Linked DNA regions of Homo sapiens. The protein of the gene in region 1 purifies or fractionates together with the protein of each later gene. This does not show direct contact. Each region holds a gene or a part of one and is shown in the gene's direction. Other genes may lie near its edges.

Evidence for each region.
Region 2: the proteins of TRMT2A (region 1) and PPP6R3 purify together in Homo sapiens (affinity purification with mass spectrometry; 2 studies listed by BioGRID and IntAct, with this or other methods). This does not show direct contact.
Region 3: the proteins of TRMT2A (region 1) and ANKRD17 purify together in Homo sapiens (affinity purification with mass spectrometry; 2 studies listed by BioGRID and IntAct, with this or other methods). This does not show direct contact.
Region 4: the proteins of TRMT2A (region 1) and SMARCAD1 purify together in Homo sapiens (affinity purification with mass spectrometry; 2 studies listed by BioGRID and IntAct, with this or other methods). This does not show direct contact.

What each region holds. Positions count from the first base shown.
Region 1 is NC_000022.11:20,111,357-20,114,243, reverse strand, and holds the end of TRMT2A (tRNA (uracil-5-)-methyltransferase homolog A), read left to right. Parts: intron 1-435; coding exon 436-558; intron 559-682; coding exon of another isoform or gene 683-736; coding exon 737-812; intron 813-1,009; coding exon 1,010-1,126; intron 1,127-1,236; coding exon 1,237-1,333; intron 1,334-1,427; coding exon of another isoform or gene 1,428-1,449; coding exon 1,450-1,681; 3' UTR 1,682-2,369; downstream 2,370-2,887. UniProt on the Homo sapiens protein: S-adenosyl-L-methionine-dependent methyltransferase that catalyzes the formation of 5-methyl-uridine in tRNAs and some mRNAs. Mainly catalyzes the methylation of uridine at position 54 (m5U54) in cytosolic tRNAs.
Region 2 is NC_000011.10:68,456,654-68,463,780, forward strand, and holds the start of PPP6R3 (serine/threonine-protein phosphatase 6 regulatory subunit 3), read left to right. Parts: upstream 1-4,098; 5' UTR 4,099-4,174; intron 4,175-4,973; exon of another isoform or gene 4,974-5,047; intron 5,048-7,127.
Region 3 is NC_000004.12:73,255,785-73,263,582, reverse strand, and holds the start of ANKRD17 (ankyrin repeat domain-containing protein 17), read left to right. Parts: upstream 1-4,784; 5' UTR 4,785-4,914; coding exon 4,915-5,307; intron 5,308-7,798.
Region 4 is NC_000004.12:94,210,841-94,217,875, forward strand, and holds part of SMARCAD1 (SWI/SNF-related matrix-associated actin-dependent regulator of chromatin subfamily A containing DEAD/H box 1), read left to right. Parts: intron 1-2,194; exon of another isoform or gene 2,195-2,312; intron 2,313-2,897; exon of another isoform or gene 2,898-2,930; intron 2,931-7,035. UniProt on the Homo sapiens protein: DNA helicase that possesses intrinsic ATP-dependent nucleosome-remodeling activity and is both required for DNA repair and heterochromatin organization.

The sequences.
Region 1 (2,887 bases):
GCAGGAAGGCTGTGGGGACCTGGAGCGGCCGTTTTTGGAGACAGGCCTGGCAGGACCTCCTGGAGGGCTAGGTGTGGGGGTGGGAGCTGCAGTTGGGTGATTCCAGGGGCCCCGGTGTGAGTTGTGGGAGGCAAAGCCCCCTTGCTGGGGCAGGGAAGGTACAGCCTATTGGCCTGCGGGGCCTCATGAGCCCTCAACCAAGTGGGGCAAGGAGGAGGCTGTGCTTAGCACGGGCTTGGCTTTTAAAGCCAGGGGCTGGATGAGGGCATCAGCAAGGCTGGTCCAAGGTGGGGTCAGGGAAGACGTTGGGCACCAAGGTGGGGAGTGGGCGCCGGAGGTCCCGGCAGGATGGAGGGACCAGGAATGTGGGCGTCGGGGCACCAGTGGCACCACAGGAGAGGAGCCACTGACATCCTGGGCACCGCCTGCCCCCAGGTGAACACACCCGCAGCCGAGGTGCTCTACACAGTCATCCAGGACTGGGCCCAATTGGATGCGGGGAGCATGGTGCTGGACGTGTGCTGTGGCACCGGCACCATTGGCCTGGCCCTGGCCCGGGTGAGCCCTCCTGCCCTGCTGAGGGCACCCTCTCCCCACCCCAAGACCCCCATTGACCCCAGCTCAAAGTCACCACAGCTGACTCCATCATGCCCCAGGCCCAGCTCCTCTTTGCTGCCCACAGGGCCCCATGTACTCCCCTCCCTGGGTGGGGCGACACCACGCTTTCCTGTTTCAGAAGGTAAAGAGGGTCATTGGGGTCGAGCTATGCCCAGAGGCTGTGGAGGACGCCCGGGTGAACGCCCAGGACAATGGTGAGTGGCAAGGCCGTGGGTGGGGGTGGGGATGGGGGCAGCCGCCACCCCTGCTGCAAGCCTCAGCCACAGCCAGGGCTTGGGGGCTGCCCGACAGGTAGAGCAAGTGAGCAAGCTCTTTGGCTAGGGGTTCCCCAGGGCTGGCCCTGCTGGGAGGGCATGTGGCCCTCTGACAGGCCACGGTGCCATCTCTTCAGAGTTGAGTAATGTGGAGTTCCACTGCGGGAGGGCCGAGGACCTGGTGCCCACCCTGGTGAGCAGACTGGCCTCCCAGCACCTCGTGGCCATCCTGGACCCACCCCGTGCTGGCTTGCGTGAGTGGCTTTTGCTTAAGGAGGTGGCACGGGAACGAGGACACATGGGGTGGCTCACCATGTTATGCACTCTCTGGCTGTGGGGACCCAGCTGGTGTTTGCCTCCTCAGATTCCAAGGTGATCCTGGCCATCCGGAGAGCTAAGAACCTCAGGCGGCTGCTGTACGTCTCATGCAACCCCCGGGCAGCCATGGGCAACTTTGTGGAGTGAGTGTCTGCAGGGGCCTGGGTGGGGGCTAGGCCTGCTACCAAGCCCCCAGCTCCCACAGGAGCCCCTGATTAGCCTATCGGCTGACCTTAGCGCCCCCCTTTTCCCCCCACAGCCTCTGCAGAGCCCCATCTAACCGGGTGAAGGGCATTCCCTTCCGGCCGGTCAAGGCTGTGGCAGTGGACCTGTTCCCGCAGACCCCGCACTGTGAGATGCTCATCCTGTTTGAGAGGGTGGAGCACCCCAATGGCACAGGGGTCTTGGGGCCCCACAGCCCTCCAGCTCAACCCACACCAGGACCCCCAGATAACACCCTACAAGAAACTGGGACCTTCCCCTCATCCTAGGCCCAGGACCCATTATGGGGACAGGAGCTGAAGGGCTCCCAGGGCCCCAGGGGCGGGGAAGGCATGGCTTGCTGGCCAGGATATTCAGAGGTAGGCAGCCAAAGGGCACAGAACCCTGTGCCCCACCAGGATTGGCCTGCTGCTAGGGGCCAGGGGCCCTGACCAGGAAGACAGGTGGGTTCCTGTAGCCTGTTGCCCATCCCCAGGGCCTTTGTGGACTAGCCAAGGCTGTGAGGGCCAGAATAAACAACTGCTCAACAAAGGGTGTTTCTGTGATGAGAGCCAGGGGTCTGAACACAGGGCCTGGGTGCCAGGGAAAGGGCCAAACTAGGCCTAGGCAGCTCTGCAAGCCTCTCTGCATGGCTGGGGGAGTCAGGGCAGAGCTTACTTTAAAAAAGAATGTTCGATTTGATACTTAAACTTGAGGAGAGGCAGAGAGAGGTCTGGGAACTGCACCAGCTGGGGGCATGGGGTGGAGAACACTGGGCAGAGTTGGCCCCTCTGTGGCCAGCCTGGCCCTCAGCCCAGCAGAGAGGGCATCAACCAAGGAAGGGGCCATGCTGGGGTGCTGCTCAGCTGTTACAAAGGCAGGGTCCAGCCTGCAGGGAGGCCCCAGGAGGGGATCTGGCCAGTCAAGGGTCCACAGGGTGCCAGCCTCTCACCCTCAGAATAAAGACATCAGCCATTCCCTTCTGGACAGTTTGCTTTATGTGTTCAGACAATCAAGGCTCGCCTTCCAGGCACAGCCCAGTGCCCTGGATGGCATCAGCACAGGCTCCCCTGCCCCGGCCTTGAAGCATGGCTGTGTGCACGATTCATACCCATGCTTGGCAGACGGGTGGGGGGGGGGGGGGGGCGCACAGAGACCACAAGAGTATGGCAGCACCTGCTGTGGTGGTGCCTGGGAACAGCAAGACACAGCGAGGCTCCCCAACCTTTAGGGGAACACATGTGCACGAAGCTTTGGTTCACAGGCGCATCTGGCTGGCTAAGGGCAACAGTCACAGTCAAATGACTATTCACAGCTGCAGACAGGAGGCAAGACAGAAGCAAGTGTCTAATTATAGCAATTTGAGTTGAGGGTTTCTTTTTTAAAGGTCAACAGAAGCCAACCTTGGTCACACAGGTAGTGAGGGAAGGATATGTTGTGGGCGGCCCACAGGCCAACATTGTTTTCCTGACAGAAAAAAAAAAAAAAGCGCCATC
Region 2 (7,127 bases), on another chromosome or scaffold:
ATGAAATTATGATAATAGTAAATACTTAAAAAAAATCATTACAGAATTAAAATTGGGGGCCGGGTGTGGTGGCTCATTCCTGTAATCCTAGCACTTTGGGAGGCCAAGGCAAGCGGATCACTGGAGGTCAGGAGTTCAAGACCAGCCTGGCCAACGTGGTGAAACCCTGTCTCTACTTAAAACACAAAATTAGCTGGGCGTGGTGGTGTGTGCCTGTAATCCCAGCTACTCAGAAGGCAGAGGAAGGAGAGTCGCTGGAACCTGGGAGGCAGAGGTTGCAGTGAGCCAAGATTGTGCCAATGCACTCCAGCCTGGGCAACAAAGCAAGACTCCATCTCAAAAAAAAAAAAAAAAAAATTAAAATTTGGCAGCTCTGAGTCTGTTCCCAAAATTTAAGTCATGATAGCCAGGTGATGGGTGCTTGAGCATGCAGCCTGCTCTTCTCTCTGCTTTTGAATATGTTTGAAACTATTCAGTTACATGTGTGTTTTTTTAATAATTTGTTATTAATTTTTGCGGGTACATAGCAGGTACATATATTTATGGGGTTTTTTTTAAAGTCTAGATGGATTGAAAAGTTTAATATTAATATGAAACATTAAACTACAAAAGGATCAGGAGGAAAGACAGAAGGTGGTGATCCCTGAAATCTAGAAGTTTTAGGGTAGAGACGTCAATCTGTGTAGAATGCAAAGCTTCTAAGTCATTCCTCTGCTTAAAGCCTGTCAGTAGCTCCCCATGGCTCTCAGGACCCAGGCTGAGCTCAGATACCTCCTCCTCCAGGAAGTCCTCCCTGACTTCAACCTTCTGGTTAGGTTAGAAGCAAACCATAAGTGGAGACCTTAGGGGCCCACTTACGTTGGGCAAGGTACTATATGATTTCATTATAATGTATATGGCCCTGTGACCCACCTCAGAGTCAGGGATGGAGGAGCCTGGTGCAGATACTGGCAAATCCTTTGATGATGAGTGAGTATAGGGATGCAAGGGTCGGTGGGGGTGTTGGGTCCTCCCTGGGCTCCCCAGCACGGAAGGACGGACGGGAGCCCAGCCCTGGCTGCCCCCTCCTGCCCATGGCCCAGCCTCCCTCTCAGGCACCAGCCAGTCCCAGGACTCTCTGAAACCTTTCCTGGGCTCCTTAGTCCAGCTCCAAGCTGCCCCTCTGGCCCTGTGCTACACCTGGTGCTCCCTGCTCTCGCTTCCAGCCATCTTCTCTAGAGTATGGCCAGCCCTTCTTCTGCCCGGAAGCTTTCCTTGGCTCCCATGGTCTGAGCATAAACCCAGGTTCCTCCGCCTGGCTTCCAAAGCCTCCATGGTCCCTTCTGCACCTGCTTCTCGAGCTGTTGCCCCAGACCTGAGATCAGCCCCACCCTGCCTTCCACGGGGTGTGCTCCTTCCACCTTGCTGCCTCGGCCTCTTTCCCTGGCATGGCCGCTCCCGCCCTGCCCAGGTGATCAGCCTGTGAATCCCCTCCCTAACCCCCACACAGAGCACACCTCCCAGGCTGGCTTCCGGCTTGACTATGTTCCTCCATGCCTCTCTGAGTAGCAGGATCAATGTGAGAAAGGTCTGCCCTGTCTGCAGCCTCCCCAGAAGCACAGTACTTTTCGTGGCGCGTACACGGGCTGGTAGATACAGTTGTCCCTCTGTATCCGTGGGAGATTGCTTCTGGGACCCCCAAGGATTCTCAAGTCCCATATATAAAATGGCTTAGTACAGTTAACAACAGAGACGTGTTCTGAGAAATGCATCGTTAGGCAATTTTGTCCTTTGCAAACATCACAGGTATACTTAGCACAAACCCAGATGGTCTAGCCTACTACACACCTGGGCTATATGGGATAGCCTATCGCTCCTAGACTACACATCCATACAGCATGTTACTGTGCTGAATACTGAAAGCAGCTGTAACACAATGGTAAATATTTGTGTATCTAAACATAGAAAAGATCCAGTACAGCTGGGCGCGGTGGCTTACGCCTGTAATCCCAGCACTTTGGGAGGCTAAGGTGGGTGGATCACCTGAGGTCAGGAGTTCAAGACCAGCCTGGTCAACATGGTGAAACCCCCATCTCTACTAAAAATACAAAAATTAGTGGGACATGGTGGCATGCACCTGTAATTACAGCTACTGGGGAGGCTGAGGCAGGGAGAATTGCTTGAACCCAGGAGGCAGAGGTTGCAGTGAGCTGAGATCGCCCCATTGTACTCCAGCCTGGGCGACAGAGCAAGACTCCATCTCAAAAAAAAAAAAAAAAAAAGTCCAGTACAACTACAATATCATAATCTTATGAGACCAGTCTTTTTTGTTTTTATTTATTTATTTATTTTTTGAGACAGAGTTTCGCTCTGTCGTCGAGTCTAGAGTTCAGTGGTGCAATCTCGGCTCACTGCAAGCTCCGCCTTCCGGGTTCACGCCATTCTCCTGCCTCAGCCTCCTGAGTAGCTGGGACTACAGGCGCCCGCCACTGCGCCCGGCTATTTTTTTTTTCTTTTTGTATTTTTAGTAGAGACGGGGTTTCACCGTGTTAGCCAGGATGGTCTCGATCTCCTGACCTCGTGATCCACCCGCCTCCGCCTCCCAAAGTGCTGGGATTACAGGCGTGACCGCGCCGTGACCTCCTGTGGATTTTCATGGGACTCTGAGAGGCGCCTCAAATCCATTTTGGAATAAGGCAGGTTATTAGCATGGGGTCTAACCGTGGGCTGTCTCGGTGTCCTGGGCTGGCTCTTGGGGCGGGGGTCCTGATGTCCGGGACCTCGGTCCTACCTGGGAGGCACAGATATGGCGGGGAACGGGAAGCCCGGGGGAGCATTTAGAAGCTCGTGTGCACAGGGAAACCCTGTCTCTACAAAAAAATTAAATTAGCGGGGCCCAGTGGTGCGTGCCTATGGTCCCAGCTACTCGGGAGGCTGAGGTGGGGGGACTGCTTGAGCCCAGGAGGTGGAGGCTGCAGTGAGTCATGATCACCCCACTGCACTCCAGCCTGGACAACAGAGCAAGACCTTGTCTCAAAAAAGACCCCAGGCCAGGCGCGGTGGCTCACCCCTATAACCCCTGCACTTTGGGAGGCTGAGGTGGGCGGATCACCTGAGGTCAGGAGTTCGAGACCAGCCTGGCCAACATGGTGAAACACCCGTCTCTTCTAAAAATACAAAAATTAGCCGGGCATGGTGGCGTGCACTTGTAATCCCAGCTACACGGGAGGCTGAGACAGAACTGCTTGAACCTGGGAGGCGGAGGTTGCAATGAGCTGAGGTCGCACCACTGCACTCCAGCCTGGGGGACAACAGGGAAACTCCGTCTCAAACAAAACCAAACCCCAAAAGTTCTCGTCTAAGTCCTTCTCCCAGGACAAGGGCACTTATCTCTTGGCGGTGCGTCACAGGTAGGGATATTCCGCGATCCCTCACCTTGACCCCGCTACGAGGACAGCCACCTCTTTCAGGTAAAGAGATCGCAATGGGAAATCATTCTGATAAAAATTCCCCTGTGGAGAATGCAGGCATCGATCCCGTTACCTCTCACATACTAAACGAACGCTCCTCCACTTAAGCTGATTCCCTAGCCCGGCCTAACCTTTGCAGCCGGCGCATATTGTGGCTCACGTCACCACCGGTGTCCCCCGCCGCCCCCGCCCCGCCCGGCCAGCTCGCCACCCTATTGGATCCCTCACGGCTCCGGCTCCACGGCCATGATGGGCTTGGCTCAATTTAGTTTTAAAAAGCATTGGCCACTCGGATTGGTGGTCCGAAGCGTCCGTCAAGCGGAGGACCTGCTGTTGCTACGGCGTAGGGGGTCCCAGCCAGGTTTCTCCCCGTTTCTGATTTGTTTCTCAGGCTCCGGGGTCCTAGAGGTTCCGGATCCGTCAAGTCCATGGGAAAAGAATGCGCCCCTCGCGCTTGACTGACGAGGCTTGCGGGCCAATCGGAATGTAGTCAAAGGAGCCGCTAGGCGATCCAATAGGTAGTAGGGGGCGGGAGAGAGGGGCCAATGAGCCTGGAGCTGGGGGCGGGGGCAGGGCCGCGATTGGCTGAGAGGCGGCCAGAGGGCGGGCGGGGGGGAACTCAAGGCCTGCTTGATACGTCCGCCATTTTGGGCGCTTCGCTGATGGTGTCGGTGAGCGCGTTTCCCGCCTGAGCGCAACTAGCGGCGGGTCGTGGGCACCTCCAGGTAATGGGGGTAGGGGAGGCGCCGGAGCAGGCCGCGGCGCGGGGTGTGCGAGGCGCGCGGGCAGGCGCGGGGCCCCTCCACCTGGCCTCAGCGGCTCAGGGAGGGAACGTCCCGGCCCCTCTCCCCTCCCCCCCCGGAATTCGTCGCTCCGCGGGCCCGGGAGGCGCGGCGCCGAGTCCTTCCCGGCCGCTCCCCGTCCGCTCCTGTTAGCCGGGGGCCCCGCCAGGACGGGCGCCGGGAGCGGGACGCGGTCGGGGCGGCGACTTTGTGCCTCGTTGACGTTCGCGGCCTGGCGCGGCGGGCGGGCGAGGCGCGCCCCTGACCCGGCTCTGGCTCCAGCCTTCCCGCCCGCCGGCCGCGGCCCGCAGTCTCGCCCCCCGCCCGGCCCGCGCCCGGTCTCCGCTCCCGCTGGGCCTCCCGGGGGCCTCGGGGAGCGCGTCAAGTTGAGGCAGCAACTCGCCGTCAAGAGTCGCGAAGACCATTGTTGGACTCTGCTCTTCGGGAAACAAGTTTTGTGGGTTTCTGTTAATTCGCCGCAGAGTCATCGGGATCCACACCAGCCAGTTCCGAGGCTCCCAGTACCCTTCCCAGTGGCTTTTTAACTCCTGTGAGGTGGCTTGTATGTAAACTGTCTCGAATGCCTCCCTGGTGTATTTGAGCCGGGGGTGGGGGGGGTGGGTGGTCCTTCTTGTGGCTTGAAGTCCCTCCCTCTTAAAGAAGCCCATTCACTGTTTACTTGGAGGTGTTTCCTGTTGAGGTCCTGCTGGCTGTGATCACAATTTAGACTTTTTAATTATAGGTGAACGGGATGGGTCTTTGGATGTACCTCCGTGCCCTGACGTTTCAACCGCGTGACTTAATGTCATTTTCCTGGTACTTCACGTTTTCTCTGTGGGGCTTTGGGTCTGTTTTGCTTTTATGGGAGGGGGTGCTTGACAGGCGTTCCCTTTCATCCTCGCAGCACTTGTTGACGGGGTGGTGTCCTTTATTCGTGGGACGTTTACTTTGATTTTGTCCTCAAGGTCATGTTGCAGATAGGCTTCAAGGGGGACAGGGACTCCAGGTTTCCAACCACCGAACTGTGCCTCAAGTAGCAAGTGTATGAGACCCAGTTATGGTGGTGGTTGGGTTTTCCTCACTGTGGAGTGGAGTCAGTGACCACTTTTTAGCTCTGTGACCTTGGGCAAGTTACCCAGCTTCTCTTTTTTTTTCTCTGTAGTATGGGAATAATAATAAGTGTCCCAGCCATAAGTTTGTCAGGATAATTGCCCTAATACATGTAAAACAGCTAGAGCTGTGCCTGGCACATACAGTCACCTCAGTGGCTGATTAGTGGTTAGGCTAGTTAATGGCTATTATTGTTTAATTTAAATTTGATTTTTAAATGTTTAGGTACTATTGGGAAGTCAGATGAGCATTTGAGTCCCGACTCTTGGTGACTGCCTTTAGAAAGCTCTGTGTAAGACTCAGTTGGGCTGAAAAAGTAAAACTATAAGTTATTTTAATTTTTTCAGGACAGGGTTTTTGACCATTCCTTAAATTAGGAACATTTACCGGAGTAATTAATGAGTAGTAGCGCCTCATAATGTTTAAAGAGATGGTTAAATACAGAAAAGCCCATCACAAGCTTAAGTCGGGCTTTGTTCCTCATGTGCTTTTGGATACTAGTTTCTGGGTGACTGCCACCCGAATCAGTAACTAGGGTTTCTTAGTGTAAGTCCTCCTTGTTACTGAAAACTGTAAGGGTGCCGTGGATTGCAGTATTCTTCAGCAAAGATAGTTTGGGAAATAGCTTTTGTCCTGGAGGGATACTTTGGAAGGTATTCTCCACTTCAGCATGTCTGGTCAGGGAGTCTAGAACATTGAACAAAATGCCTGCACTCAGTCAGAAATAAACTCACAATCCTTTACCGCTTGCCCGATACTCTCCTCCATGGTGCTCGAAACCTTGCGTGCACCTTCCCCTGGTATTGTTGTGTTTACTTGGGACTTGGTTTGCTGTATTGGAGATGTGTGTTTTGATGGACTCAGTCTTAAGTAGAGATGAGTATCTTGCTGGTGGAACTTAAGGACAGGAAGAAGATTGTTTTCGGTTTAGAACTCTAGCCTTTGTGTAAAGTATAGCAAAGCAAAGTCAACAAGCAAAAAGTTGTTAGTTTCAATGAACTAATTGAGAATTTGAGAATCAGACCATAGCTGAGCAGAAAATGAATAGAAGTAACATTGACAGGATGAGGTTGCCTAGCTTTTTAAGATAAAGCTTTGGCCGGGCGCAGTGGCTCACGCCTGTAATCCCAGCACTTTGGGAGGCCGAGGCTGGCGGATCACTTAAGGTCAGGAGTTCGAGACCAGGCCAACATGTGAAACCTTGTCTCTATTAAAAATACAAAAATTAGTCGGTCATGGTGGCGTGTGACTGTAATCCCAGTTATTTGGGAGGCTGAGGCAGGAGAATCGCTTAAACCTGGGAGGCGGAGGTTGCAGTGAGCCAAGTCCAGCCTAGGAGACAGAGCGAGACTCAGTCTCAGAAAAAAAAAAAAAAAAAAAAAAGATAGGGCTTTGCACCTATTTGGTAGATTATGTGCTTGTTACAAATAAACATCTCTTTAAAACAAGTGTCACGATCGGTATTTTATTTCTATGACAACTTCCATTGTCTAGTTCTATATTTTCAGTATTTGAGAGGCAGCCTCTGTGTGTGTTTGTGTGTGTGTGTGTTTTGGTCTAAAATTTTACAGTATTTTACTAAATAAGAGTAAATGATAGTGAAAATAAAGCTCTTCTATCTGCTCAACTAAAACTCAGCATTGACTTGGTCCTTAGAAGTTATGGTCTGCACCCCAGTATTGGCTGCTACTTTTTCTAATGTACTGAAAAAAAGATCTGGCCTCTTGGCTTTAAACAGCTTTCATATTTCTTTCCTTTCTTAACTTCAAATGATTGTCTTTTGATT
Region 3 (7,798 bases), on another chromosome or scaffold:
TTGTGGGCCTACTCCTGTGGTATAAAAATTAGAATTAGGTAATGAACGATTGCATCTGGAGAAAGAGGGACAGGTCTTTATTAGGGCACGCTCTGAAATCTCAGTGGCCTAACACAAAAGAATGCGTATGAGCTGTAGCACAAGTGTCCCTAATTGGCAAGCAAGTATCCTCCCAGTGAAGAGTCAGGAAACTCTAGCACAAGTGTCTCTAATTGGGAAGCAAGTATCCTCCAAGTGAAGATTCAGGAAACCAGGAGTCCTATCTTGCGGCTTTGCCATCTTTAACACATAGTTTCCAGTGCAAATTTGCTCATCTGCCTCAAGTTGATGGGGAGTGGGATATATTGGATTGCTCATGTGATGTTTCCATAGGCCAGAGCTGGAATAGGAGTGCATCACTTCTCACATTCCACTGGTTAGAACCTAATCAGCACACCTAACCCATATACCTAATTGCAAGAGAGGCATGGAAATATAGCTGTGTGGCCAGAAGAATTTAGCATTTGCAAGAATCTACTATTCTGATCACTAAACATGTATTTTACCTGTCTTTCCACACACAGAACATACCCTGTCCCAAAGGAGACAATCTAAAGTTTTAACCAGTTACTGGAACAGGCTCAAAGTCTAGGATTTTCAGAAAATGTGCAGTTCTCTTCATTAGGTACAGATGTGACCTAAGAACTAAAAAGACAAATTATCTTTATTGTCACCCCCATCCCTGCAAACCCAATATATAGTGGTAACTCAGGGACAGATAACTATAATACATTCTCTCATTCAGAAAAAAAATGTGATACTGAGCAATACTATTCATGTATAATAATGATGAAATACTGCATAAACATTTTGCGGCCCATCTCCTTGAAACTGAAGAAAGTTCTGATGAAACTCCAATTCTAGTCTTCAGGAGAAACTCCCTGTCCAGTCTTTAGTACAGCTCCTTATACGAGCTTCTGAAATGTTCTTTTTTTGTCCATCATTCTCCATGGCCACATCCTGTGTGGGTACTGGGGAGCTGTTAAGGTTTTATGCTCTATTTTTCTACTTATGCAAGCTTGGGGTTGGACAGTTACCCTCTGTTTTAACACCCGAACAATGATATTTGAGCCAGATTTAGTATGATTAATAAAATTCCTCTAAAAATGTAGTCTTCTGATTGATTTGCTTCTGGTAACTACACCCAAAGTTCTTTCTTACATAATTATCAAGCCTAATTTACTGCTTTGCTGCCTTGCTCCTATGCCAGTTCCTTTAGACCTTTATCGTAGCTATCTTGAAGCCATCTAAAATAATGACTTTGAATGGAAAGACCAAACCCTTTTCCTGATCTTTGTTGCAGGACTTAATCTCAAGGGTAACTATACTCAAGACCTCTTCTAGTTTTTTTTTTTTTTTTATTAGAAGTCTTATAAAAGTCAACTTTTCCAACCCTTCCTGAGAAATATTCCTGTACACTCTCACTTCTGTGAAGTATTTCCTGAGTTTCTCTCTTTAGTAAAACCTTACTAAAAGTAAAATGTAAAATTCAACACAGTATTACTTTTGCTCTTTTCAATCATTTCCTCTGGAGCTAATCTAAACAGATAGGTGATCTGATTTTGAATTATTTCAGGTGACAGTTTTACTAATTACTTTGCCACTGCAAACATGGGCCTCCTTTTTCTAGCCTCCAAATCACATTCTCTACCACCTGCTGCATCATAAATAAGCTGATGTAACATATTTTAGGTTATTGTTTTAGCAGTACTCCACTTCTTGTACCAATTTCTGGACTAGCTATGGTCATTCTAGCTCCTATACATATAAATTCTCAAATCTCAATTTTTTCTCTTACAGTAAGTGCAAAAAGGGGTGTTTCTAATTGGGGTGGCTGTCTTCCAAGTACTGTTTCAGCCACTCATTCTTCTCTTTTCTGGCTTTGGCATCTCCAATACATAGTTTTGAAGGTCACCATGCTCAAAGGCATCAAGTTGACGAAGAAAGAGTAAGGGAGAATAGGAGGACTTCATTAACCCTAAAAATGAGCACATCATTTCCATTCATATTTAATTGGCTAGAAGTTAATCACGGCCAGGCTCGGTGGCTCACGCCCGTAATCCCAGCACTTTGAAAGCCGAGGTGGGGGAATCACCTGAGGTCGGGAGTTCGAGACCAGCCTGACCAACATGGAGAAACCGTGTCTCTACTAAAAATACAAAATTAGCCGGGTGTGATGGCACATGCCTGTAATCCCAGCTACTTGGGAGGCTGAGGCAGGAGAATCGCTTGAACACGGGAGGCGGAGGTTGCGGTGAGCTGAGATTGTGCCATTGCATTCCAGCCTGAGCAACAAGAGCTAAACTCTGTCTCAAAAAAAGAAGTTCATCACATGACTATAACCAACTACAAGGAAAGCTGTGAAATTTAGTTTAGCTGTGTGCCCGGGAAGAAGAAATAAGTTTCATGGGCTAGTCAGTCCCTGCCAGAGGTTCTAACGGGGGGAAAAAAAGATAAAAATAAAAGAAAGTGACTTTACATGCCTTGTCCATTTTAATAGTTTTGAACCTTATCCTACTAGTGAAACAGGATCATCATTTCACTATTATATTAAAGAACAAAAAACTCATTTTCTTCCAAACAATGAGATTACTTTAAAGAGAGCATTTTTGGTAGCACAGCACGATAGACACAGAGACTAGACTGCAGAGGGCTGACAAGTCAATTTCAGAAAACAAAAAAGACACTGATTGTAGACACTTTTTTTTTGAGATGGAGTCTCGCTCTGTCGCCCAAGCTAGAGTGCAGTAGCAGGATCTCAGCTCACTGCAAACTCCGCCTCGCAGGTTCAAGCGATTCTCCTGCTTCAGCCTCCTGAGTATAGAATACTTTTTAAAGAAAGAAAGTTTGCTTGTGAAGGAAATAATTGAAAGCTACAGAAGAATTAGCTAAGGAACCAGAATTTGTAGAAGGTTGACAACAGAAAAGATAATAAATGCATGAGAAAGAGGGGTATTGGAACTAGAATATGTATGAAGAGTTTATCTCATATATGAACAGGGAGTCTCTCATTCGTTGATACTGGAGAAAAGGCAATCTCAGGAAATTTCTAGCACTTGGAAAATTGTGAAGTCTAAGTTAAAAGTCATATAATAAAATGGGCTGGGATTTAAAGATTGCGAAAAGTATTCAAGTGGAAAGGGAGAAAAAGATGCTGAAGAATATACAAAGTAGGAGGGAGGGATGCAGCTGAAATTATAAAATCTAAATCAGTAGTGGTGAGATACACAATGCAGTGCTCTGTTCTACACTGGAACTCAGCAACGACTGTAGGAGAGGAATAGGCAGATGGTTACCACTCCGTATATATATTTACTATAGCACTTATTACACTGTAAAGCCCCTGGAAACAAGAGACTTTGATTCCACAAATTATGCGCACAGTAGGCACATGATGAATTTTTGTTTGAATGAATTGATTTAGTCATTGCCAATTCTGCCTTGGTACTCTGTAGAGTACTGGCAACTGCCCACATTTCATATGGTATGCCAATGCTAAAAAGAAAAAAAATGCTAAAAAAAAAAAAAATCCAGGCATATTCAGCTAAACTAAGCAGTCTTAAAATGGCAACTATGTCAGCTGAGACATACTTTTAATCTTGTGCCAGTACATCTGTCTTTGATGTTTGCTTCATTTTCCGTATGCCACTATACTCCTACTAGACCAGAAAGGGATAATTCTGAGTTCAATGGGCTCCACTATCATTTCAAAAGTCCTGAAACTTCTTCAGACACCTAAAAATGAACCCACAACTCCCATAACAGCATTCCTTCCGAGAGAAGTATACAGACAACAATCACTATTTATGCTTGCTTCCAAGCTGAATCGAAGAGGGCCGGAAGAGCTAAATCAGGGTCATTCAGTGAATCGTCTACAAAGTCTGGCACAGACCACGCATCCTTCCCGTGTCTTCCTCCCCTTGGAAACTTGAGGTGTAAGTAATGATCTTAGACATCTCCTAATCGACTGCCTTCATATTACACACGTGTAAACTCAGGTAGAGGATGTCTATGAGCCGAGCTTAAACTCAGGTAAAGAAGGCTCTTTTCCCAACACGACGCCATCTCTCATGATCCAAAGCTCTATCTCTCGATTTGGCGGTGGAAAAAAATGACCAGGAATAAAACTACGTACAGCAGTCCAGAACGAGGCCCCACCTCCCGGATCTGGCGGACCGGCCTCCCGTCAGCAAAGTGTCTGGACCGCGCTTCCGCACCTCACACTGCCCGGGGCCGGCTCCTCTCCAGCCTCCCCGTACTCCCCACACGCCGCAGCACTGCGCGCCCGCGGGGCCCCAGACCCGGCCCTTGAAATCTCACTTTCGCCTTTCGGCCACCCGCGCGCCACGGCTCAGGCGACGGCTGATGGCGTCACTGCACTTCCGCCTGCGGCTGCGTTCTAATCACAAGCCAGGAAGGAAGAAGGGAGGGCTGCAGGGCTGTGTGTGCGGGAAATAGCGAGGAAAGAGAAGAAATCCGGGAGCTCGCGGGCGCTCTGGTTGCAATCGCGCCCCCCTCATCTGTCCCCGCCGTTCCCCTTCGGAAGCTGCCCCAGGCACACTTCCCCGCTTCTTTCCAGTCTCCTCTCCTCTGGTTCTCCCGACACCCGGTCTCCCTGTTACGCCTCACCCTCCTTCCCTTGCTCCCTCCCTCTCCCTCCCTCCCTCCCTCCCATCGTCAGGCTCCCCGCCCTTAGTATCGCGAGACGAGGTGAGAGCTGGCGGAGCGGCGGCGGCGGCGGCGGCAGTAGAGGTGACCGAGGCGGTGGCGGCGGAGGCGGCACCGATTGCTGTGTCGGCCCCAGTGCGGCCGAAGTCGCGGTAGAGCGTAGCCCCACGCCCCTCCCCCGTCCGCGCCCTCCCTCTTTCCCTGGGGATGGAGAAGGCGACGGTTCCGGTGGCGGCGGCGACGGCTGCAGAAGGAGAAGGGAGCCCCCCGGCGGTGGCGGCTGTGGCGGGCCCCCCCGCGGCGGCGGAGGTCGGCGGCGGCGTTGGCGGCAGCAGCAGAGCTCGCTCGGCCTCGTCTCCTCGTGGGATGGTGCGAGTCTGCGACCTGCTCCTGAAGAAGAAGCCGCCGCAGCAGCAGCACCACAAGGCCAAGCGTAACCGGACTTGCCGACCCCCCAGCAGCAGCGAAAGCAGCAGCGACAGCGACAACAGCGGCGGCGGTGGAGGCGGCGGTGGAGGCGGAGGTGGCGGCGGCGGCACCAGCAGTAACAACAGCGAGGAAGAAGAGGACGACGACGACGAGGAAGAGGAGGTTTCTGAGGCAAGGGCCTGGTTTCAAAGGAAGGAGGGAGGAAGGGACTGTAAGGGATAGGGGCCGAAGGTGGGAGGGGATTTGGAGTGGGACAGATTCCAGTGGGTTGATCTCTTAGGGGCCAGGCTTTCGACTGCCCCCTTTCTTCCCTCGGCCTAAATCGTGAGGTGTGGGAATGTGGGGGAGGGTAGCTGACACGTGGGGGTGGGAGGACCACGGAGTTCACAGAGTTGGTGAACAGCCTGTTATCATGGGATGGCTCACTTGGTTAAGGATGGAGGGAATTGGTTAGATTCCCTGTTTGCACGCCGGGGGGTGGGGGGGTGGTCTGCCTGGGGCCAGTAGGGCCACCTTAGTCTGAGGCGGGATCGGGATCAAAGCGGGAGGAGTAAAATAATGGGTAAATGAGTCTCTTGGGGACCAACTAGGAGGTTGATCAACTTCTCCCAGTTGTGAGGTGGAGGGGAGCAGTTTGAGGGGGGACGTAAGGTTGTAATGGACTCAGAGCTAAGTGTTTGTGTATGTGAGGGACACGTGAGAAGCTGTACTTTTCCATACTGTTCTGCAGGGTTTTTCGTAACTATCCTGGCTGCTGAAGTAACTTCATTTCCTCGATCTCCCAGGGATTTTCGATGAACTGATGCTGTATTTGTATAAATTTATCAGTAACTTTAAATAATTACAAATGACCATATACATTTGTAAGTGGATGAAAAATATATTTGATCCTTACACGTACATACATACATGCCTTCGAATGTTTCCTTAGTGAGTTAGAATTAAGCTAGGACCTGTTGTCCCGTAATATGGGACAGCCAAAGGGTAGGCTTTGGAGCCAGGCCTGGTTGTGGTGAGTTGGAATAGGAAGGCCTCTCGGTTTGTCCTAGTGATCTGGTTTCATAATAACTTTATAATTTTTCCTGGGTCCACAGACAGGCGGCGTTGCAGGACCTTATTCCTCACAGAAGCCCTTACAACCCAAAGGCTCAGTAAAACATACCATACTGACAACCAACTGAGAGTTAGCTTTACTAGTTATTAGCTGTTTTACCACTCTCTTGTCTCCTTCCTGAAATAGAATCTAGAAAAATCTTTATTTGGAGAGGGAAATCTTTATCAGCAGAGGGAAAACAGCTTTAAAGGCTGATTTTAAACTTAGTTCTAAGAGGAGACCAAGTGATTCATCTAAAAGTACCACTTACTATTTATTCTCTTCCACAAACATGGAACTTATTTTGATGCAAGTCTGGTTTTCCGAAAATTGGAATTATTGAATCCTGGTCTCTGTTGAAATAGAGAAGTACCTTTTAAAGGATTTGACACATGTCTATTTGTAGAAGACCAGATTCTCTTTTATCTCAGACTGGATGAAGTTGTATAGGTAGAGATATTAAGTGCTGAAGTATGTATGACAAAAATATGCCAGTCCTTGTTTTTATTCCCTTTTAGCCTGTTGGATTCTGAGAATAGGTTTGTATTGATAGACTTATATTGGCCTACTTGGATGTTTAGGATAGTGTGTTGCTCTGGCGGCATTTGAAACAAGGAAGAGAAAGATGTAATGGGGTCCTTATCCCTAATAAAATTTGTTATGGTACTTAGAATCATTCAATTGTATGATTCTTCTCAAAGGTGAGAAACATTTTACAGGTAATTCAGCCCTTTATTTTAAAAAGGAGGAAAACAAGGTTTAGAGGAAAGTGGTTGTGGTGGGTAGTAGCAAAAGTACAAATCAAAGTTTTCTAATGTCTCAGACCTGTACACTTTTTAATAATAATTTATTTCCTTTTATCACCCTCCTGATATCATTCAGAAAAATAGTTACTGAATAGCAAGGTAACACAATCATGCAGCTATAGGCAAAATACCATTACTTAAAATTTTAAATTCTCGTGAAACTATTAAGCTCTGGTTTAGAGCAAGGTTATGATAGTTGAATGCAGTACTTACTGGGATATTCTGCTGCAAACTTAACATACCTAGGTAGTTTTGTCCATTGGAATGCGGCCTAATAAGCAGAACTTTTAGTAATTCCTTAAATCATGAAGAATGGCTGTAAGTTTGTAGGTATGTTTATTTTGTGGGTCAGGTTTGTTTTCCTTTTGTAATATAGGAATGGTTATGTTGACTTTCACCAACTATGGTAGTATTTCTATGTTTTTAACATACCTTATCCTGTCTTTTACATGGTGTTAAACAATGGGTTTGTCATTTATGAAGATGAGTCAGGAGAAATACGTGTAAGAAAGTGTGCCCATTGGCCGGGCGTGGTAGCTCACGCCTGTAATCCCAGCACTTTGGGAGACCGAGGCGGGCGGATCACCTGAGGTCAGGAGTTTGAGACCAGCCTGGCCAACATGGTGAAACCCCATCTCTACTAAAAATACAAAAAAATTAGCCGAGTGTGGTGGCAGATGCCTGTAATCTCAGCTACTTGGGAGGCTGAGGCAGGAGAATTGCTTGAACCCGGGAGGTGGAGGTTGCAGTGAGCTGAGATTGC
Region 4 (7,035 bases), on another chromosome or scaffold:
CAAGAATTGCTTGAACCTGGGAGGCAGAGGTTGCAGTGAGCCTAGATCACACCACTGCACTCCAGCCTGGGGGACAGAGACTGTATCTCAAAAAAAAAAAAAAAAAAAAAGGTAAATGTCTTTAAGAATTCAAATAAGAATCGAAGGTCTGGCTGGGCACAGTGGATCACCCCTGTAATCCCAGCACTTTGGGAGGCTGAGGCGGGCTGATCAGCTGAGGTTGGAAGTTCAAGACCAGCCTGACCAACATGGAGAAACCCCGTTTCTACTAAAAATATAAAATTAGCTGGGCATGGTGGTACATGCCTGTAATCCCAGCTACTCGGGAGGCTGAAGCAGGAGAATCACTTGAACCCTGGAGGTGGAGGTTGCAGTGAGCCGAGATTGTGCCATTGCACTCCAGCCTGGGCAACAAGAGCAAAACTCCATGTCAAAATAAATAAATAAATAAGAATAAAAATCAAAGGTCCTGCCCCCAAGTGCTAATTTAGCCTGGGGTCTAGGGATTGCTGAGGAAGTGGGGATTCAGAATTGAGTGTTGGATCTCTGGAGAGGACAAGATACTGAAGTTAGATTTTAAGGTCAGGACTGGAGATGAAAATTGGTGAATTATAAATAGGATGTGACTATTGACCTTACTTCTTTATCATGTGGTAACTTTTCATACTCCCATTGTGGGATAATGCTGCGTTAGTTTATTTACAGTAAAGTGTCAGGTCAAACTAAGTCAGCTTACAGGACAGAAATTGTATGTAGTCAAAATTACCTGTAATCACTCTTTTTGACTAATCCTGTTATTTTATCTAGTGAGTTGACTTCATTTCCTATGACCCTCCTTCAGTTACTGTGCCACCACCACATTGTTTCTTGAATCTTTCAAGCAAGGTCCCATCTTTGCTTCTTCCAATTTGCTTTTTTGCCTGGAAGACTCTTCCTGCTGATATTTGCATATGACTCAGATGCTTTGTTTCATTAAATCTCAGTAAAATGTCACCTTTTTAAGAAGACCTTCCTTGATCACCCTGTGAAATAGCCACCCACCCCAGCCCACCCTACCCCAGCTTTACTGTTATTTTTCTTCATAGTATTTATCACTAGCTAACCTTTCATTATGTAGTTGTGTATCACTAGCTAACATTACATTATATAGTTGTGACTCCCTTGTTAGAACATATGATTCATGAGAGCAGGACCTTATCTGTTGTGTTCACCTATTTATCTCCATTGTTCAGGGCAACGACTGGCTTGTCGTAGGCCCTCAATAAGTGCATTGAAGTAAATATTATTGCATGATGAGTGGGCATTATTAGTACTTTATACATTTTTTAAAATTTATTTATTATTTATTTGTTTTTAGACAATCTCACTGTGTGGCCCAGGCTAGAGTGCAGTGGCAGAATCTTGGCTCACTGCAACCTCTACCTCCTGGGTTCAAGTGATTCTCATACCTCAGCCTCCCGAGGAGCTGCGACTACAGGCTCATGCCACCATGCCCGGCTAATTTTTGTATTTTCTGTAGAGACGGCATTTCGCTATGTTGACCAGGCTAGTGTCAAACTCCTGACGTCAAGTGATCCACGTGCCTTGGCCTCTGAAAGTGCTAGGATTATAGGCATGAGCCACCACGCCCAGCCCTATACATATTTATTTATTATTATTTTTTTGAGATGGAGTCTTGCTCTGTTACCTAGGCTGGAGTGCAGTGGCACAATCTCGGCTCACTGCAACCTCTGCCTCCTGGGTTCAAGCAATTCTCCTGCCTCAGCCTCCCAAGTAGCTGAGACTACAGGTGCACACCACCACAGCCGGCTAATTTTTGTATTTTTAGTAGAGACAGGGTTTCACCATGTTAGCCAGGCTAGTCTCAAACTCCTGACTTCAGGCTATCTGCCTGCCTTGGCCTCCCAAAGTGCTGGGATTACAGACATGAGCCACCACACCTTTATTTTAAAATAGGACCTTAAAATAGTCCCTTTAGCCATCAGGTGTTCTTTGGCCATGGTTGCTTGAAGCTTCTTTTGGTACAGGACATCCTCCCTAATGCCCCTCTAAATCCCAGCCAGCCTTTGGATTTGAGGGCATACACTTAACCTCTGCCCCCTGATTTATTTTACTCTTCTCGGTGCCCAAAGTTGTCAATGATTGTTATTTACACATTATTTCTCCTTTTTTTCTTTGACTTTTGGGAGTACAGTGAGTTTGGAGGGATTGAAATAATGGCAGGTGAAAGGGAAGAGAGATCCTACTATATTTTATGAATAAAGAATAAAAATGAGTGAAGCCTGATCCTCCAAGAGCACCAGGAGAAAATGGTATGTAAATATATAGTTAAAATAGTATGGTGTGATAAAACCATATAATAGGGCAAAATACTAAGCAAAGTAGAATCACTATCTGTAATTCACAAATGATTGAATTATCCATTCTTCAGGGGAGGATCACAAAAAGTCACAGAGATATGACCTTTGGAGTGGACTCTAAACAATGAAATCATTGTTTACTGGGTGAACAAATGATGAGAGAGTTGAAAATATATGTTGCCTCCAAGAGTCTAATATGTGTGTGGAGGGTTGGGGGCAGATTATAGAACAGGAGGTTTTAGACAATATAGATGAAACTGAAAAGATAGAAGTGTAAACCATTGGGTTGTGAGGGGCCTTTATATCCTGTGTCAGGGACGGTAGATCTTATTTGGTACACATCATAGAGCATTTCATTATGGAAATGCTATTAGTGAAGCTGTTGTATTCATTGAAGCCTCAATGTAGGGAAATGACTGTAGAGATGACAGAGGAGGCAACTGAGGGGAGTTGTAAATGATACGCATTTGATGATATTAGGTGATCAGTTGAATGTGGAGGATTTACAGATAACTCAAATGTTCCTTGCTTGGACAGCTGGAGGATTGACACCATGGACTGAATTAAGAGGTGAGTTTAGGAGAAAGATACTAAAAATTATGTTGTGTTTGCATTACCCATCCTATTTTAGTACCAAGGTAGTAGATGGTTGAATATTAGAGCTCAGAGAGTGGTCTAAACCCTAGAACTTGGGACTCATCAATGTCCTAAGCAGGGTGTACAATAAAAAACATCATTTGACAATGGGCAGGAAAACCAATGAAAAATTTGAAGGATGACTAGAATAGTCATAGAAAATGATAGTGTCCTGGATACCTAAATACCTAGTTTGGTATTTAGTTGTCTAGTAACAAATCCTGTAGAGAAGTCAAGTTGAGTGGGGACTGATCAGTGACCAGTTTCCTTGGAATTAAAAGTAACTACTAACCTTTAACAGTTTCAGTAGAATGGTGATGAGATAGAGATTATTCATTCAGGAAAGGAAAGAGAGAAATAGGTAACCTGATTGGGAAGTAATGTCAAGAAAATATGTTTCAGGATTATTGAAAATTGAGCGTTCTTTTGTTTTTTTTTTTTTTTTTGAGACAGTTTCACTCTGTCACCCAGGCTGGAGTGCAGTGGCGCAATCTCAACTCACTGCAATCTCTGCTCTCGGGTTCATGCCATTCTTCTGCTTCAGCCTCCTGAGTAGCTGGGACTACAGGTGCCCGCCACCACGCCGGGCTAATTTTTTTTTTTTGTATTTTTAGTAGAGACCCGGTTTCACCGTATTAGCCAGGATGGTCTCAATCTCCTGACTTGAGATCTGCCCGCCTCGGCCTCCTAAAGTGCTGGGATTACAGGCATGAGCCACCGCACCTGGCCAAGCGTTTGTTAACCAAGGACAAGAAGCTAGTGGAGAGGGAAGGACTGAGGGAGGGAGGTATCTGAAGAGAGGCATCAAGTGATGAGAACTGAAGAACAGTTGGACTGTTTAACTGTGCAAAAGAATAAAGACATATTTTCCCTGGGGGGGATAATTGAAGGAGATAAAAATAGATGGGTTCATAGATTATTTTGGCATTGGCGGAATGGAGGAAAGTTTTAGTATATGTTTGATGAATTTTTTTTTTTTTGCTGAAATAGATTTAGTCCTCTAGAGTGGTTGCCTTTTCAAGGTGGTTGTCATATTGAAAGTAGCACTTGTTGATAAGTGAGAGACATTTTTAAAACTATACCAGTCGTCAGAAAGATTTCCTGAGAGTATTGCTCTGCCACATACAGATTGTATGATCTTGAGTAAAAAGTCAACTGTTTGGGTCTTACAGTCTTCTCCTGGCTTTGCTTAGTTTTCTGTATTCCTTGCCCACATTAAAATGGTTATTATCCTTTGAATGATGATACTGAATGTATCATTTTAGCTTCATAATTCCGTGACCATTGCGCAATACTCAGTCTTTTTGTAGGTGTCTGTGGCCAAAATGTGAGCCATCGTTAAACCTGTAGATAGTCATTGTGGTTTCTTAATGTCTGTTAATGTTAATTGAAAAGCAATACTTAGTTAAAGGGTTAGTGCTGAATTGTTGTAACAGAAAGTACAATAAGTACTCAAAAGTAAGTAGGAATCTTAAGTGCATTTTAAATGTGCATGTATTTGGCTGGGCACAGTGGCTCATGCCTGTAGAGTCGCAGCACTTTGGGAGGCCGAGGCAGGAGGATTGCTTGAGACCAGGAGTTCAAGACCAGCTTGGGCAATGTAGTGAGACCCTGTCTCTACAAAAAATGAAAAAATTAGTCAGGTGTGGTGGTGTGCACCTGTAGTCCTAGCCACTTGGGAGGTTGAGACAGAAGAATTGATTGAGCCCAGGAGTTTGAGGTTATGGTAAGCTGTGATCACTACACTACATTCCAGCCTGGGCAACAGAGTGAGATTCTGTCCCAAAAAGGGGGGTGGGGGGGAGGAGGGGGATAGAAATATTATTTTAGTCATTGTCACTTCACCCTACACACAAATTTCACTAGTTTGTATCAGACTACATCTTGGTTTTGATGTCTGCTTTTTCATACCTGTCTAAAATATTGCAGACCTTTATTATCTTTAATAAGCTAATAGGCAAAAGTATGTTATTGTTGCTTTTTCTTTATTTTTTAGTTTAAGTATGTTTTCATAAATTTACTAGCCATTTGGATTTTTTGTGTTTCTTTATGCTTTTCTGTTTTTCTAATACATGTCTCTCCGATAAATTATTTGTAAGTATATCTTAAATTCCACGTGTCTTAGTCTGTTAGAACTGCTGTAACTACCATGAACCGGGTAGCTTATAAGCAATAGAAATCTACTCTTGGCAATTCTGGAGGCTGGGAAGTCCAAAATCAAGGTGCTGCAAGATTAGGTATCTCAGGGCCCTATTCCTAGACCACAATCTTTTAACCCCATGTGGCTGAATGAGTGAGGGGTCTCTTGGGCCTCTTTTATAAGGGCACTAATCCCATTCATGAGTGCTCTGCCCCCATCACCTAATACCCCTTCCTCCCTCCAGCAAATGTCACCTCCTAATACCATTACCATAATGGTTAAGATTTCAACATACCGTTTTGGGGAGTGGGGCACAAACAGACCATAGCACCCCCTTTGTTGTTTGCCATAGAAAAATTTTAGATTTTTATGTGGTCACCTTGTTCATCCTTTCCTCTAAGTCTTCTGCATTCCGCATTACCACACTATAAATATACTCATTCATATTTTCCTCTAGTATGTCTGTTAATTTTAAAAATTATGATAAAATACACATAAGAAAATTTACCATCTCAACCATTTTTAAGTGTACAGTTCAGTACATTCAGTTCAATACATATACATTGTCATGCAACTATTCTCCAGCACTCTTTTCATCTTGTGAAACTGAAACTCTTTATGCATTGAACAACTACTCCTCATTTCTGATTCCCCCAGCCCCCGGCAACTACCGTTTACGTTGTCTTTTTATGAATTTGACTATTCTAAGTATCTCATTAAAGTGGAATCATCACTTAGCATAACATCCCCAGGATCCATCCATGTTGTAGCATATATCAGAATTTCCTTCCTTTTTAAGACTGAATAATATTTCACTGTGTGTATATACACATTTTGTTTATCCATTCATCCATCAATGGGCACTTGGATTGCCTCCACATCTTGGCTGTTTGAATTGTATTGCAGTAAACATGAATGTGTAAATATTCTCTTTGAAACCCTGCTTTCAGTTCTTTTGGTTGTATACCCAGAAGTGGTATTGCTGGATCATATAGTAATTCTATTTTTAATTTTTTGCGGAACCTCCATACCGTTTTCCATAGGTGCTCCACCATTTTACATTTCTGCCAACAGTGTGGTGGGTTCCAGTTTCTCCACATCCTCTCCAACCTTGTTATTTCCTGTGTTTTTGATAATAGCCAACATAATGGACATGAGTTTGTATCTCACTTTGGGTTTCGTGTTGATTTTTAACTTTAAATCTCCTCTGAATTTTATTTCATTATAGGGACTAAAGAAAGGGTGATATCGTTTTCTCCTTTGTTCATTATTCACCAGTTACTAGTCAGTTTTTCATTTATTGAAAAATCCTTTTTCTTACATTAAAATGTCATCATTATAGTCTAAAATTCCCATGTTTGTTTGCATCTTTGGGTCTGTTAATCTGTTCCTCTAATCTTAATTTACCAGATTATTTTAATTTTTATAGTGTCATATATATGATGTATCCTAGATTTTGATGTGTTTTTGTTGTTGTTGTTTTCTCTTTGACCTGAAAGTTGTTTAGAAGCCATTTTTATGAGGTTTTGTCTCTTTTTAAAAAATTTCCAACTGGCAGAAATTTTGCTTGCATATTTTTGTTAACATTTACTTCTAATTTCACTGTTTTGTGACCAGAGAATGTGGTCTGTAGTATTTCTTCTTTGGGGGAAATTAACTCAGATTTTCTTTGTGGCCTAATATTTAATTTCTGTAAAAATTCAAGGGTGCTTGGAAAGAAAACATAATCTAAGTACAGATTTAATTATATGTCGAATAATAGATGAGTTTTATTATATCTTTGTTTTTCAAACTGGATCATAAACATTTATTGTGTCATAAAATCAATTTCTTGGGTCCTGACTAAATATGTATAACTACAATTTTTAATGGAGTAGAACAAATAGAAAATTATCAAAG